Regions from separate parts of the Homo sapiens genome. Here region 1 is linked to region 2. Evidence: fine-mapped expression QTL. A gene starts in region 2. The other region holds a variant in brackets. All regions are shown on one strand. Distances are between the middles of the regions. Region 1 has its middle 6.2 kb from the start of TAS2R40. Region 2 holds the start of GSTK1 (glutathione S-transferase kappa 1).

The links.
Region 1: its variant is fine-mapped to the expression of GSTK1 in whole blood (INTERVAL, PIP above 0.99).

What each region holds. Positions count from the first base shown.
Region 1 is chr7:143,224,104-143,232,437 of GRCh38, reverse strand. No RefSeq gene overlaps it. Among named protein-coding and RNA genes, the nearest start is that of TAS2R40, 6.2 kb to the right of the region's middle. The variant C/G (reference allele first, on the strand shown) is at 3,366.
Region 2 is chr7:143,258,443-143,266,776 of GRCh38, reverse strand. GSTK1 (glutathione S-transferase kappa 1) reads right to left here and starts at 3,336. Exons shown (of 8, transcript NM_015917.3): 1 at 3,192-3,336; 2 at 2,610-2,691; 3 at 2,101-2,229; 4 at 1,685-1,785; 5 at 1,481-1,516. The coding sequence starts at 3,263. All of the region lies in intron 2 of TMEM139-AS1 (TMEM139 antisense RNA 1), which reads left to right. It overlaps LOC105375546 (a long non-coding RNA gene), which reads right to left. Exons shown (of 3, transcript XR_007060569.1): 3 at 3,570-3,629. RefSeq lists enhancers at 3,089-3,308, 3,127-3,421 and a silencer at 3,449-3,518.

The sequences.
Region 1 (8,334 bases), 34 kb after region 2:
ACTATTCACAATAGTCAAGATATGGAATCAACCTAAATGTTCATCGACAGGTAAGTGGATAAACAAAATTTGGTATATATACACAATGGAATACTATGAATCCACAAAAAAGAATGAAATCCTGTCATTTGGAGCAATACGAATGAGCTTGGAGATCATTATGTTAAGTGAAATAAGTCAGGAATGAAAAGAAATACTGCATATTTTCACTCATATGTAGGAGCTAAAAATGTTGAGTTAATAAAAGTAGAGTAGAATTGTGTTTATTAGAGGCTAGGAAGGGTTAGGGGAGAGGATTAGGAGAGGTTGGCTAACAGATGAATCACAGCTAGATAGGAATAAGTTCTAGTGCTTTATAGCATTGGGTGAATATAGTTAACAGTAACTGCATATTTTCGAAAGCTAGAAGAGAGCCTTTTAATGTTTCCAACATAAAGAAATGATACACTTTTGAGTTGATGGATATGCTAATTACCCTAATTTGATAATTACACATTGTATACATGTATAGAAATACCACTCTTAGATATGTTCTATTATTACATGTCAATTAAAAATAGAAGGGAAAAAAGTTGAATTAGAGGAAACACATACCAGAAGAATGATGTATATTTTGGTATATTTCAGATAGTGTGGATTTCAAAGATGAATCTTGAAACCCAATTAATTTTAATAGGTACTAAAAATTTAACTGGAATGAAAAGAACCCACAAAATCTTTTAGGCTAAAGGTACTAGAAATATTTGAATTATATAATAAACCTCATCAAAAGCCTTCAACAGTGTGTACTGGCACTATGTTAATGGTTGAGTAGTGGTTACATAGGGGATGTACCATTACCTGCTTTTGTATATGTTTTAAATTTTCCAAAATTAAAATTGTAAGTAGAACCTAACCATCAGGCCCTTTCAGTGATTGTACGTAGTGAAGTGAATAGAATGAAGCATCAAGAGCTGCCAGAAAAGGTAGTCCTGAGATGCAGTGTGAAGGGCTTTGCAGGCCAGTCAGAAGGTTTTTGCATAATGAGAAGCCTTTGGAGGATTTTAAGCAGGTGGGGTGTGTGTGTGAATGTGTGTGGTGGTGTGTGTGTGTGTGTGAATGTGTGTGGTGTGTGTGTGAGTGTGTTGGTGTGTGTGAATGTGTGGTGTGTGAATGTGTGGTGTGTGAATGTGTGTGGTGTGTGTGAATGTGAGTGTGTGTTGGTGTGTGTGTGTGAATGTGAATGTGTGTGGTGGTGTGTGTGTGAATATGTGTTGTGTTTGTCAATGTGTGGTGTGTGTGAATGTGTGTGGTGGTGTGCGTGTGAGATGGTGTGTGGTGGTGTTTGTGTGAATGTGAGTGTGGGGTGGTGTGTGTGAATGTGAGTGTGGTGTGTATGAATGTGTGTGTTGGTGTGTGTGAATGTGAGTGTATGTTGGTGTGTGTGTGAATGTGTGTGGTGGTGTGTGTGAATGTGTGTTGGTGCGTGTGTATGGTGTGTGTGAATGTGAGTGTGTTGGTGTGTGTATGTGAATGTGTGTTGGTGTGTGTGTGAATGTGAGTGTGTGTTGGTGTGTGTATGTGAATGTGTGTGTTGGTGTGTGTGAATGTGAGTGTGTGTTGGTGTGTGTGAATGAATGTGTGTGTTGGTGGGTGTGAATGTGTGTGTTGTGTGTGAATGTGAGTGTGGTGTGTGTGAATGTGTGTGTTGGTGTGTGTGAATGTGAGTGTGTGATGTGTGTGAATGTGTGTGTTGGTGTGTGTGTGAATGTGAGTGTGTTGGTGTGTGTGAATGTGTGTGTTGGTGTGTGTGAATGTGAGTGTGTGGGGTGTGTGTGTGAATGTATGTGGTGTGTGAGAATGTATGTGGTGTGTGTGAATGGGAGTATATGTGAGTGTGTGCATGAGGTGTGTGTGAAAGAGTATAAGAGTGTGTGTGTGTGTATGTGCGGTTCAAGTGAATGTGTATAGGTTTCTTGTTCACAAAGTTATGGAATTGGTGTGAATATCATAGCTGAGTTGAAAGGTAATACTTGTTACCTGAATTTAGCCTCAGTCATTTGGGTGGAGCTTAGGGTGACCAACTGTCCCAGGTTATCCAGGACAGAGAGGTTTTCTGGGTTGTGGAACTTTCAGTTTATAAAATCTGAGTGGTTGGTCACCTTAGTGGTGGCAATAGATAAAGGGTACAAATTGTGAGTAGTTGTATGTTTGAAGGGTACTTGGTGGATAAGGAAATAGAAGAAAACTCAGGCAGCTGAATAGATATGGAAGTCAAGGGTGAAGATCTTTAAAACAGAGAGAGTGGCCAACAGTGCCCCACCCTTAAGGGGATCAGAGGCAATGGAGACTCAGGCCACAGGTTTGACTTTTTAAAATATTATTAACTTATTCAGATCAGGACTTACTAGGCATGTTTTTTAGTTATTTAGCCTTCAAAAAAAAATTCTGCCATTGGGTACAATTAATGCCATCAGTGCCAAAAACGTAAATTAGAATATAGACACAAAACTTAGTGAAATAACTCATGAAAGATAAAATATTAGGCAAAGGTGTTTGAATCACTTAACAATTTGATTAGATAACAAAGAGGTTAAGACCATTTCTTGTAGTATTTGGAGATATTTAATTTTTATTATGTTAAGATAAATCTCACATAAATCTTAACAAATCTTAGTTAACTCTTATGAGTAGAGTGTGAGTGTCAGGTGCTATTCCACTGAGCAGTGAGATGAGGGAAGAACGGGCCTATGGGGTCTTGGTGTTTTCCGCAGGTCACATTGCCACTCCCTCCCTGCCAAGCATTTCCATCACTCATGGTCTCAGCTGCACTCAGGGCCGCCAGCCATAATCTACTCTCCAGCTACTGGTTTGAATAAACCACTGATTTATTTGCAGTCCCGAGAGCTGTAGGCAGGAAATGCAAACAGCAGCTTTCCCTCGGGAGGGCTAGATGTAATGGGACCCTTCTCTGTTTTCCATCCTCAGGCTCTGATGGGAATCTCTGAGGAAGCTCAGTGGAAAATTTCTTTTTCTCTCAGCCCTGATTTCTCCTAAATGGCTCAGTAAGACCGAGAGAAAAGGATTTTGTCCTGAGTTATCTGCTCCCCACGGTGAAGGAACTAGGGAAAGAAGATCAGGATTAAAAAATTGTTTTTAGAGGATAGGCGTTTTAATTGTGCACATTTGAGGTTTAGGGTACATTCCTGACTCCACAGTACATAGATGACTACTCAGGAATTTTTCACATTATAATTTAATCCAGTATTCTTTTCTAGCCTGTGTACTCTTGGAGGGTAAAATTTTTGTTGAGTTGATCTTTATTTACTAAAAATGCATTAAGAAATACATTTTTGTTGAATGAATGAATGCACTTATCTTCATAT[C/G]GTGGTTTACAATTTATTATAGACATATTTTATTTGAGTCTCATAGCAACCATGTGTAGCGGATGTTATGATTATTTCTGCTTTCCAGATGGGGAGACTGAGGCTCAGAAAGGTTTAGTGACTTTCCCAAGATCACACAGAATGGAGACTGAAGTCTAGATCTTTGACACCGAATGTAGATTCTTTCTATACACCACATTTCCCATCATTATTCAATAAACCAGCCTGTTGCTTAGTCATCTAAAAGAACACAAAAATACAAACATTGCCCTGCTGGATCAAATTCACAAGGAGAAAGCACTCAGAAAGCCTAGTGTTCAACCTCAACAGAGATGGTTTGTAGAGGCATGACTATTTCAAACTCATTGTTATCAAGTGAGTAGCTTCAGGGCAATAGCTTTCAAAGCCTTAAGGAGAAACAAAATTTGGGCTCCGTGTCTATCCTTAGCAGGTGGGAGACAGGGGACTAGAACATTAGCTTTCTGTTTATTTTTTTATTTTATTTTTTTACAAAGAGCTAGTGGACTCTATTTTAAAGATTGCACAGGGACAGAGAAAAGCTGGAGAAATTGAAAGTGGCAAAAATATTGGGGAAGTTGCCACGTTCAAAACATGGCAAAAATTCATAAAAAAGGATGAGTTCATGTCCTTTGCAGGGACATGGATGAAGCTGGAAACCATCATTCTCAGCAAACTAACACAGGAACGGAAAACCAAACACCGCATGTTCTCACTCATAAGTGGAAGTTGAACAGTGAGAACACATGGACACAGGGAGGAGAACATCACACACTGGGGCCTGTTGCGGGGTGGGGGGCTGGTGGAGGGATAGCATAAGGAGAAATACCTAATGTAGACGATGTGTTGATGGGTGCAGCAAACCACCATGGCACATGTATACCCATGTAACAAACCTGCACATTCTGCACATGTATTCCAGAACTTAAGGTATAATAAAAAAAAAAAAAGAAAGAAAAAATAACATGGCAAAAGTTGCCACAATAAGTATCCCTGGTTTTGCAATGAAGTGTGACTGGGTCCTGGGGAATGCTGTGCCTTCAGGGGTAGGAGAACATGCCTGAGTGAAGGGTCTGCAACTGCAGCCTGGGGGCAAATCTGACCCACTGATTCTTTTTGTTTTGTATGGCCCACGAGATCAACTAAGCAAAAATTTCACCCTCCAAGAGTGCACAGCTGGGAAAGAATGGACATGGCTGTGCTCCAACAAAATGTCACATCATGAAATATTAATTTTTTAACCATTTAAAAATGCAAGAGGCATTTATTAAAAATGCATTTTTAATGGTTGAAAACATTAAAAGAAGAATAATATTTCATGACACGTGAAAATTATATGATATTCAAATGTCAGTGTCCATAAACAAAATTTTGCTGGAGCACACCCATGTCCATTTATTTATTTTTTGAATCACCATGGTGGCTTTTGTGCTGCAACAGAAGAGTTGAATTCTTCTGGAAGGGACTGCATGTGGCCCACAAATCCTAAAATATTTACTCTCTGGTCCTTTACAGAAAAAGTTTGCTGACCCCTAACCTAGTGCCTGTTAGGTTCAAATCTACACTCAGATAACTGTCGGGCAGCTAAACTGTGGAATACTAGATGTCTTTCATTTCTGACATTGTCAGGAAGTGAACAGGAATCCAATTCTTAAGGCCACCCTACACTTTTCACCTGCCACTTGGATGACTGAACTACTGGATCCATGGCCATGTTCTGCCACCAAGCCTGTGGGACTATAAAGGCTAAGCCTTCTGTGTGCATCTGGCCCAGTCTGGTCTGTCCTTTTCATATCTGGCCTGCTTTAAATATCCTCATTCTAGATGCCTCTCAGTGTCACTCCACTTCCCTTTGGAATACTAACAGCTAACATCTATTGATGGCTTACTCTGGGTCAGATGCTGTGTGCTAAACACTTTACCCCATTCTTCTCTTAGGATGAGATAACCCTAGGAGGCTGGTATTTCCCATTATTGTTCCCATTTTACAGATGTGGACACTGAGGTTCAGAGAGATGCAATAACATGCCCATTTGCACACCAGTAAGTGGCAGAGCCAGGACCCAAACCCAGTCTCACGACTCTGGGAACTGCACGGGCGGGGGTGTGGAAGTTGAGGGGATGCAGGTTTTTCTGTTAATGCTCCACCCTGCCTTGGATCCCCTCCTGCTACTGCTGCCATACTAAACCTAGGGGGTGGCTGGTACTTTTCTTTCTTGGGCTATCTTCAAAACCACTTTTCTCTTATTTTCTTCTTGATGCAACTGAAAGAGGGTAGAACATTCATAAGACACTTTGCTAAAAAAAATAAGAAAAACCAAATGAGAGACAAACCAGGAAAATTTTTTACAAATCTGTATTCTTCCTACTGACGTTGTTTGATGGGCTAGCGCCACAGACACAGAGCACCTTTGCAATACCACACTGGGAGGGAAGAGTCCAACCCAGAAATGCTCCTCTTCAAAGCTCTTGGAAAACTTTGTTTTGCTGCTTACAGGGTAATCCCCACAGGCCTAGGCAGAATTGTCAGTTAAGAGCTTCTCCCAACTGAGAGTGGCCAAGATTAACTCAGCACTCAACACCTCCACATCTTCCCCTTTAGGTTCCCACTGCCCCAGCCCTTCACACCACCCATTTTCTGCTGTCTGCTCCCATTTTCCGCCCAGGCCTGCCCTTCCTGGGCCATGTCACAGGCTCCAAAATGCTTCCATCTTCCTCCTGTCAACAGAAACTTGTAGCAGTGTAACATGTTACCTCTTCCCAGCATACACTTGATTTGAGCATTTCCCTGAAAGTTTTGCCTCTCCTATTTTAGGCAACGCTTCCCCCATTTAGAAAAGGGTACAGAGAGTTCCCCCAGCCTTCAAACATTACAGACTGGCTTTTTAGCCGTTCTGTCCTCCTCTTTCTCCCCCAAACAAATCTTTCTGAGTACATAAGAAATTTCCTCCTCTTACCTCTCTTCTAAAGATTTTTCTTGGCTGGGTGCGGTGGCTTATGCCTGTAATCCCAGCACTTTGGGAGGCTGAGGCGGGCAGATCACAAGGTCAGGAGATCAAGACCATCTTGGCCAACATGGTGAAACCCCATCTCTACTAAAAATAAAAAAATTAGCTGGGTGTGGTGGCACATGCCTGTAATCCCAGCTACTCAGGAGGCTGAGGCAGGAGAATCGCTTAAACCAGGGAGTCGGAGGTTGCAGTGAGCCAAGATGGCACCACTGCACTCCAGCCTGGGCGACAGAGCGAGACTCCGTCTCAAAAAAAAAAAAAAAAGAAAACTATATATATATTCCTTGTCTCCAGAGGAGAGGGAGAAAACGTAAGACAGATGGGAAGGCTTCCTCTCTCGGTGTCTTTTTTTTCTTTCCTTCCATGATCTTTCCTAATGCACAAGTTGCCCTGTCTCCAACAAGACATAATTAGTTAGCCCTTGGTTTCTGCTCCCCTCCCCCAGCACAAGACATTTTAGACTGGTTGGACTTATAGTTTCTTTTCTTTTTATTACATAGATGTTTCTTCCCTGCTGCCCCAAGTAAAGAATGCCTGAGAGAATAACAGATTTCCTGTAGAATAAAAGCAAAGAAAAGCCAGAACCACAGTGGAATTTTAGCAGACACCGAAGTAGTTGGAAGGGGAAGATGATACTGGATTGTGGGACAATCTGGTGCCCATAAAGTCATAGCCCTTAGACTGGCCATGGCTGCCAGTCTAGCCTTTATTTGCAAGGACTCGACCAGGTATGAGGAAAGAAGCCAGATACCCTGCCTCTGGGCTGGGCCTGCCAGACTGGAATCCATTGCTAACCAAAGTCCCCTTACCTGCTCCACATGCTAGATGAATATTCAGAGTGACTTTGTGGGTAAAGGAATCCTTCACTCTATCACTTTCAACATCCCGCAGGGCTGTGGGGCGAGGGAGATGATGTAGAGTTTGCAAGGTGAAAACCTGTAATAATATTGAGACCACAGCAAGCCGGGCTTTGCATTTGGTTACAGACTTTTGTCCAGCAGAGTCGATTATTGTCTTCATTTAGGACTTCTGATTGCTGTCTAAAGCCAGACAACTTGAAGACTAGGTATTCTGGGTCTTTCTGAGTGCTTACTTGGGTTTTACATACAGAAGAAAGAGAATTGGAGAGAATTTTATCTCGTTGAAGGCAGGCCAACATGTGCATCGATAAGGATGTTATCATCCTTGGAGCTTTTGTTAGCTATGTGCTGCCTTAGGCTCTTGCTAGCAATGAGATGATATTTCTTCATAGTAAGTATGGAGTTATCCACTTTGTGGTCTTGACATGGTTCATGTTAATATAATGGCAACTTTAAATCAATTTTCTCTCTAACTCTGTAATGCATCAGAGAACCCTTAGTGGGTACATGACCCTTTTATCAATATATATAACTTGGAAGAAAATGTATATTTCTCTATTCTAGGGACTGGAATAAAACTTCAATATCTAATTTGTCTTACTATAACAAATACCGCCTGAAATAGTCATATAAATAACTATAGCTTAAGAAAACTATCAAAAATGTGTGTTTTATTAATATTTTACTTTTCAGGTAAATAAGTCCCAAGCTGTCTGAGCTATAAAGGAATCTGTGTGTGTGTGTGTGTGTGTGTGTGTGTGTATGCCATGTGTCTGTGTGTATGCCGTGTGTGTGTGTGGTTTTTGCAGTTTATGGATGTAAGGAACTCTCTCTGAAATGTGTGCTTGAGAGCGCTGGAGCTCAGAACTAGACTTTGCTACTGACCTCATATTTTCATTTGGGGGCTACCTAAGCTTGGTATGATCCACAGCATTCTTTTTTCATTTTCCTCAATAATCATGATTTAAAACTTACCTAATAAAAGACAACTTCAGATTCCTAACGTTCAAGCTCTAAGATATCTGGGGAGAGGGTGTCCAATGTTTTGTGAACAGCTCTTTGAGACAATGCTGCTGGAAC
Region 2 (8,334 bases):
AGATGCGAGATCACTTGAGCCCAAGAGGTTGAGTCTGCAGTGAGCCATGATCATGCCACTGCACCCCAGCCTGGGTGACAAAGCAAGACACTGTCTCAAAAAAAAAAAAAAAAAAAAAAAAAAGAAAGAAAGAAAAAAAAGAACAAGAACAATTACATCACAATTCCAGGGGAAAGGGTTAGCGCCAAGGTGCTCCAGGTGATTTTAATTCACAGCCAAGATTGACAACCACTGCAACTTGACTTCCTAGATCAGAAGTGGGACCCAGGAATTCATGTAGCCTGTCCTAATGAGACACTATCTTTGACTTGGTTAAATTAGAGAATTATGTCCTACACAAAATGTTTAACCACAGAAAAATGGTTAAGCAAAACAAAAATAAGTCCACTCAGTGGAACCTCTATAGAAACAAAGAACTATACTTTCAGAGTTAAGAATTCCATGGAGGCTGGGCACAGTGGCTCATTCCTGTAAACACAGCACTTTGGGAGGTGGAGGCAGACAGATCTCTTGAGCACAGGAGTTTGAGACCAGCCTGGGCAACACAGTGAAACCCCTTCTCTACAAAAAATAAAAAAGTTAGCCAGACATGGTAGTGTGTGCCTGTAGTCCCAGCTACTCAGGAGACTGAGGTGGGAAGATTGCTTGAGTCCAGGAGGCAAAGGGTACAGTGGGTCGAGGTCACACCACTGCACTCCAGCCTGGGCGACAGAGCCAGACCGTGTCTCAAAAAAAAAAAAAAAAAAAAAAAAAGCATGGAAAATGATTAAATATGAAGTAAAAAAGCAAGCTAAAAATTACACATGTACTTTGCAGGAGTATAGACTGTAGAAGATATATTTGCCATTCCTTATACGTTTAACTTTTGTGTGATTTGCCACTTTATATATTAAATTTGAATAGGTCTCAACTATTTTTTTTTGTAAACCAGAGGAATAATACTGTTTTGAATTTCCTAATTTAATCCTGAAGACAAACTTACTTTTATACCCCCATCCATGGCTCACTGGTCAATGTTTTGAGCTATTTCCATTTGTTCTCACTCAGGCTCCTATATAACCCTGGCATTAGTTATCTCTTTTCGTCTTTTTAAAGCCTCTTGGAACAAGTCTCCTGCCTTCCACTCTGGATGTGTTGGTGAGGTTTGTGTTGGAGTTTGTGGAGACTTGTGAATACTATATCCCTCCCCATCCAGGGGTTCCAACACTGAGCATCTTTCTCTCACTGACATCTTTCAGCAAATAAATTCTTCCCATATATTGTCCCTTTTGCACTTCCCCTTTCAACCTTGAGATATCCTTTTGAGGATCCTTAGTTCCAACTTTTCAGTAGTTTGTGCCCTGAATCACAGACATCCTTTCTTCCCCAGTAATTATAACCTTTTCCATGCAATAAGAGACCTATTGTCTTCTTTACCCCCAAACGCCAACTGTTCTCAGATTCTCTATGAGTGCAGTTGGGGTGGAGCCAGGACACTCACCGCCAGGATGCTCTGCGGCTCGGTGATGTCTTCATTCTGGGAAGAAGAGAAGACAGCAGGAAGGCGGTGCGGGGAGAGGGGTGTGACTGGGAGGACAGTAGATCCCCCGGGCGGGGGCAGGATCATGACCCTGAAAACGTGCCTGGGGAAGGTCAGAAAGTCATCCAAGGTCCTCCCAGAGGATTCCCAGAGCCCCACACTCACCCTTGACCAGACGCGCATCCACAGCTCCCGGGACGCTTTCTCCAGCATCTCTGGATGCTCCAAGTTCACGGCGGTGAGGAAACGCATGGCAGACAAACTTCCTGTGGGGCAGAGGCACCCAGAGGCAGGGCTCCTCTTGCTGCTTTCCTGGTGGAGGACTAGCTCTTCCTTGCTTCTGACATCCCCCAGAGCTCCTCCGCCCTCAGCCTCTCACCCAAGGTTCCCATGACCTATTTGCCTGCTCTTCTTCCCTTTCATGCCCGGCAACCTTCAGCTCGCTCAAGGCTGATCCTGAGGTTTCCCAAGGCAGGCTTCACTTGCTTTAGTCTCCCGCAGCCCCTCCATCCTATCAATCCCTCAATCTCCGACTTCTGTGTTTTTCACTGGATACCCTGTCTACATCCCACTCTCTTCACCTTTTTCAAGCATCACAGACAAGAAATCCTTGGGGAAGTGGATGGGAATCTGGAGATGGTGTCTCAGGAGCTTTAAGTCATTTGCCATGTATAGTCCTTTGCGGGGAAGCAGACCTGGAGGCTTGTTTCCTGCCAGGAGAAGGTTGGGCACGCTAAGTGAGAAAAGACCTAAGGGTCCCAGGTTTGGGGACCTCGACGTGGGTTTTGGGCAGAGGGCAGCTTCCTTTTTTTTCTCTTGTTGTTTCGCTCTTGTTGCCCAGGCTGGAGTGCAATGGTGCGATCTCAGCTCACCGCAACCTCCGCCTCCTGGGTTCAAGCGATTCTCCCGCCTCAGCCTCCCGAGTAGCTGTGGTATACAGGCATGCACTACCACGCCCGGCTAATTTTGTATTTTTAGTAGAGACGGGGCAGAGGGCAGCTTTCTGGCTGCCAGTGCCAATATAAGGACCCGCTGGGGTCGGCTCTCTTGGGCCACTGAGATCACCCCTGCCCCGACCCTCCCTTCCTACCACTGTCTTTCATGATCCCTGTTATGAGGCTGGGCCGCAACTGCAGGTTGATGTTCCAGATATTCTGATACCGGCACAGGATCTGCGGGCAGAGGTCAAGAACGATTGCCAGTGTGCAAGATGGAAAAGTGAAAGAGCCGAGGGAAAGGGAAGGGAGGCGCTAAGTGCAGAGCAGGGGTTATGCGGACACCCTACATTGTTTGGTTTGAAATTGGCAAAACTCTCCTCACTACTAGAAATCTATTCCAGGATCTTCGCTCCTGTGGCCAGTTTTCCCCAAAACTGCCATCGTTGGGCTAAGAGGTGGCCGTGTTCTGCATTTCTCCCTGAATGTTTGGAGCCGCCCCTCTTTCCACCACCGTGGGAAACTGCAGTCGGGATATAAAGGCTCGGGTTGGAGCCAGCGACTCTATTCCGTTTAAAAGCACAAAGTGACCTTCAGCCCCGGAGCTCTCCCTGCTTGCCTTAACCCCTTGGGCGGCGCCAGGAGTTACACGAGACCTCTGTCCCGGAGCCCTGCGCTCACTCTTCCCTCCGCCCTCACTCCCCAGACACTGCCGAGGCGACCCCTCCCAGCGTCACCTCGAAGCCCAGCCAGGAGTAGGGGGACAGCACGTCATAGAAGAGCTCCACGGTGCGCGGCAGGGGCCCCATGCTGCAGGCTCCGGAAGAGCAGTGGCAGCAGGAGCTCCTTTTCCCGGAACCCGGCAGAGGCTGCCCAGCTTCTGGGCCTGCCTGGGACCGCCCACCGCCTTAGCGCGCAGCCTCAGAGAGAAACTGCCCTGGTAGAGGTCCACCTCCGGCGCAGCGGGGCAGGGCCAGCCTACGGCCCCCAGCCAGGGGCGGGGTGGGTAGGGACCCCTTGGGGAGCGCGCAGGTGTGGACAAGGGGCGCTGCAATCGCCTTTGCAAAAATTTTAACAGTGAGAAAATTACGAAGGTGAAACAGATCTGAACTCACCAACTCCATCGTGCCTTTAACCTCCAAACTGCCCTTGGTCATTCCTGAGCATGGGACGAGCTAATATAGGGAGAAATTTAGTTTATAGTTTAAATGATAATAGCCCTTCCCCAAACTAAACCAGTTTTATAAAACTAATAAAAGTCCACAAGTTTAGGATTATGAGAGGGGCCTGAATTCTGCTAAGATGTAGGCATTAACAATTACCAGACATTGTTCCAGAGGTCACAAGCTCTGCAACTTCCCCAATTATTCCTGTAAATAACCACTTTTGTAGAACCTAAGACTGGCCTTTGAAGATACCTTCTCAGACTTTTCCATTTCTAATGACAGGATGACTCCACCTGGACCAGTGACTCCTCTGTGGCCCGCATCCAAATGCAACTCGGTGCACTGAGGACGGTTTTCCACACCCCTGTGATTGCATCCCCAACCAATTAGCAGCACCCATTCTCTAGCCCCTTGCCCATCAAACTATCATTAAAAAACTCTAGCCGGCGGGCATGGTGGCTCACGCCTGTAATCCCAGCACTTTGGGAGGCTGAGGTGGGTGGATCACTTGAGGTCAGGAGTTCAAGACCACTCTGGCCCACATGGTGAAACCCTGTCTCTACTAAAAATGCAAAAATTAGCCGGGCATGGTGGCATGTGCCTGTAATCCCAGTTACTCGGGGGGCTGAGTCAGGAGAATTGCTTGAATCCGGGAGGCAGAGGTTGCAGTGAGCCGAGATCATGCCACTGCACTCCAGCCTGGGTGACATAGCAAGACTCCCTCTCAAAAGAAAAACAAAAACAAAAACAAAAAAACCCACAAAGTCCCCTAGCCTCTGCCTCCGAATTTTGGGAGGCTAATTTGAGTAATAATAAAACTCTGGTCTCCTGTTTAGCTGGCTCTATGTGTATTAAACTCTTTCTCTATTGCAATTCCCTTGTCTTGATAAATTAGCCCCATCTGGGTAATGGGCAAGATGAACCCATTGGGCTGGTGTCAGGGTGACTGTCCTGCTCTGCAGTGGAGTCTTGTGGGAAGGGGGTAGTTTGAGATGCCTGCAGTGCCTTTCACTTAGCTGTGCCCCTTGGGTGAGCCACTTGACCTCTCTGAACCTATTTCCTCATCCTGCATACACATGGGGAATATCTAATGATAACACCTGCCTTATGACGAGTTGTGAGGAATGAGGTACTCCAATAACTGCTAGCTCTTATTATTGTTGCTTGGCAGTTGCATGAATCTCCTAAACTGGGGCAGAATAAGAAGTTCTCAGAGTACACATTTTCTTGTGTTACCTTTGTCAGAGATTTGCACAATGTCTGGGACACATTTGACCATCGATACATATATTTTGAGTGAGTGAAAAAAAAGAGGGACTGGTAGAAGATGGAGAGGCCTCACTATAGATAATTTTGGTGATAATGGAAACGATTGGCCCTATTCGTTTTCACAAATATGTGAGTCATATTGTCTTATATTGGGATTACATTTACTGCAAAGAAACAGAATTTTAAAATAATTCCATTTAACTTTGTTAAAATTATTTTTAACATTACTAATTTAATAAATTGGAAAACATATAAAGATTCCACTTTTCATTTGTATCAATAAGGAAAACAACTCCAGGCTATCAGAATACAGAGATACGAGGTAAACCCCTACATGGAGAAGAGCATGCAAAATGGAATGAAAAATGATGTTATCATTACCTACTTGCAGAGTAAACTAATTGTTCAACAACCACTGAAACTAAACTTTTTTTTTTTTTGAGATGGAGTCTTGTTCTGTTGCCCAGGCTGGAGTGCAGTAGCACAATTGCAGCTCACTGCAACCTCTGCCTCCTGGGTTCAAGCAATTCTCTCTGCCTCAGCCTCCCAAGTAGCTGGGATTACAGGTGCCCACCACCACGCCCAGCTAATTTTTTGTGTGTTTTTGGTAGAGATGGGCTTTCACTATGTTGGCCAGCCTGGTCTTGAACTCCTGACCTCAGGTGATCCACCCATTTTGGCCTTCCAAAGTGCTGGGATTACAAATGTGAGCCACCACAGCCCACCTTGTTTTTTTTGAGACATGATCTCACTCTCGCTCAGACTGAAGTGCAGTGGTTCAATTTTGGCTCACTGCAACCTCTGCCCCCCAAGCTCAAGCAATTCTCCCACCTTGGCCTCCTGAGTAGCAGGGACTACAGGTGTATGTCACCACACCCAGCTAATTTTTGTTTTTTGTCGAGGTGGGGTTTCACCATGCTTCCCAGTCTGGTCTTGAATTCCTGGGCTCAAGTGATCCTCCCACCTCGGCCTCCCAAACTGCTGGGATTACAGGCATGAGCCACCATGCCCAGCTACATTTTTGTTTTTCTCCAGTAATCATAATTTTAAAGTGTCCAAGAGCTAATTCAGCGTGGTAATTTAAGGTTTCATTTCAAAGGTAGATCAATCACTTATTTTAAAAAGCTTTTTATATTTGGAAATGTTTTAGATTTATAGAAGACTTGTAAAGATAGTACAAGGTTTCTGAATACCCCTCATCCAGCTTTACCTAATGTGAAAATCTTACATAAGTATGATAATGATAAAAACCAATACATTAACATTGGTACATTACTTTTTTTTTTTTTTTTGAGCTGGAGTCTCACTCTGTTACCCAGGCCGGAGTGCAGTGGCGCAATCTTGGCTCACTGCGACCTCCGGCTCCCAGGTTCAAGCGATTCTTCTGCCTCAGTCTCCCAAGTAGCTGGGACTACAGGCGTGTGCCACCACGCTCAGCTAATTTTTTGTATTTTTTAGTAGAGACGGGGTTTCACCATATTGGACAGGCTGGTTTCCAACTCCTGATCTCGTGATCCCCCTGCCTCAGCCTCCCAAAGTGCTGGCATGAGCCACTGTGCCCAGCCTGGTACGTTACTATTAACTGAACTGCAGGTTTTGCTCAGATTTCACCAGTTTTTTCATTAGTGTTCTTTTTCTGTTCCAGGATCCAGTCCAGCATACATACAGAATTTTGTTGTCATGTCTCTTTATTCTTCCCATATCTATGAGAGTTTCTTGGCCTTTTCTAGTGTTTCATGACTTTGACACTTGTGAAGAGTATTGATCAGCTATTTTGTGGCATGTCCCTTCATTTGGGTTTGTCTGATATTTCCTCAGAGTAAGACTAAGGTTGTGGACTTTTGGGAAGATTACCACAGAGGTAAGGTGCCCTTCTTGAATCATGTCATGAGGTACAGGGATATCAACATGACTCATCACTGGTGGTGTTTACCTTGGTCACCTGGTTAAGGCGGAGCAACTGGAAAATTTCTGCACTGTAAAGTCACCATTTTTCCCTATCCAAACCCTAGTTTTTGGAAGGGAGTCAGTAAGTGCAGCCCATCCTGGGAGTGAGGGTTGAGTAGATTAAGTCCATCCACTGGAGGGAAGAATATTAAAGAAGTTGTGGATATACGTTAACACTACCATGGTAACTAATAAATATTTGGGGGAGATACTTTGAGGCTATGCAAATATCCAGTTGCTCCCTAAACTGTCACCCATCAGTTTTATTATTCATCAGTGGATCTTGCCTGCAGCAGTTGTTACTGTGGTGTTCTAATGGTGATTCTCTATTTCCTTAGTTTTTTTCATTTATTAATTGGAATTCTTTTGACAGGAGAGTTGTCCCTTCTTTCTATTTATTTATTTATTCAGTCAGTTATTTATATCAGTATGGACTCATGTATATTTACTTTAAGAATCACAGAATAATAAAACATTGATCTGAGTCCTTACAGTCTATCTCCACATACTATTACTGTTGTTATTATTATTATTTTTAGGTTGGGCCCTGTTGTGGATAAAATGGAGTAGAGACAACAAAAAGAAAAATATATTCACTTCTATGGGCTATCATCTTCCTATTGCTGAGAGGGGTATTTAGTGTTAAAAGAAAAACCTCAGACAATTTAAATTTAATGGAGTTTATTTGAGTAAAGAATGATTCTTGAATCAGGCAGTACTCAGAACCAGAAGAGGTTCCGAGAGCTCTGCAACTGTAAGCAATGAGTATTTATAAGCAGAACAGGAAGGTAAAGTACATAAATAGTTTGATTTGTTGCAGCTAAGTGTTTTGCTTGATTTAGACATGAGCCAGTCCGTTGGCTGCTTGCACTTAGCTGAAGCTTGGCTGCTTGTGATTGGCAAAGACCTGGTTATCTGTTATAAAAATGAAACTCCTAAGTTAAGTTTCAGTTTGTTTACATACTAAGTTAGGTTGCATTTTGTTTCATAGGAATTCAAAGCATGGAGACTGTCTCAGGTCAATAGCCTCCTGCTTACTTAATTTTACTCTAGATACTGATTAGAGCTATTGAAACAAGAAATAGTGGTATAAGTAAGTTATTTGAAGTGGGAAAAGCACTAAGTAGAGGAACAAAACATGATATAATTATCAAACATTGGAGGAGGCAGAGGAGAGGTGGTGTATGCGATCCAAATTCTCATCTTTCGTAGATGAGCCAATGGTATTATCTACATTTGAAAGCTCAGTAAATAGCGCTTTAATCATGTCATTTGGAATTAAATAATTGATACTGGAAATGCTTTAAGTTGCCTTTTCAAATAAATAAAAAATTGACTATTCAATAAATGATATTGGGACAACTGAGAGGTTTTTTTTTTTGTTTTTGTTTGTTTGTTTGTTTTTGTTTTTTTGTGAGGAGTCTCGCTCTGTCACCCAGTCTGGAGTGCAGTGGCACGATCTCGGCTCACTGCAACCTCCACCTCCTGGGTTCAAGCG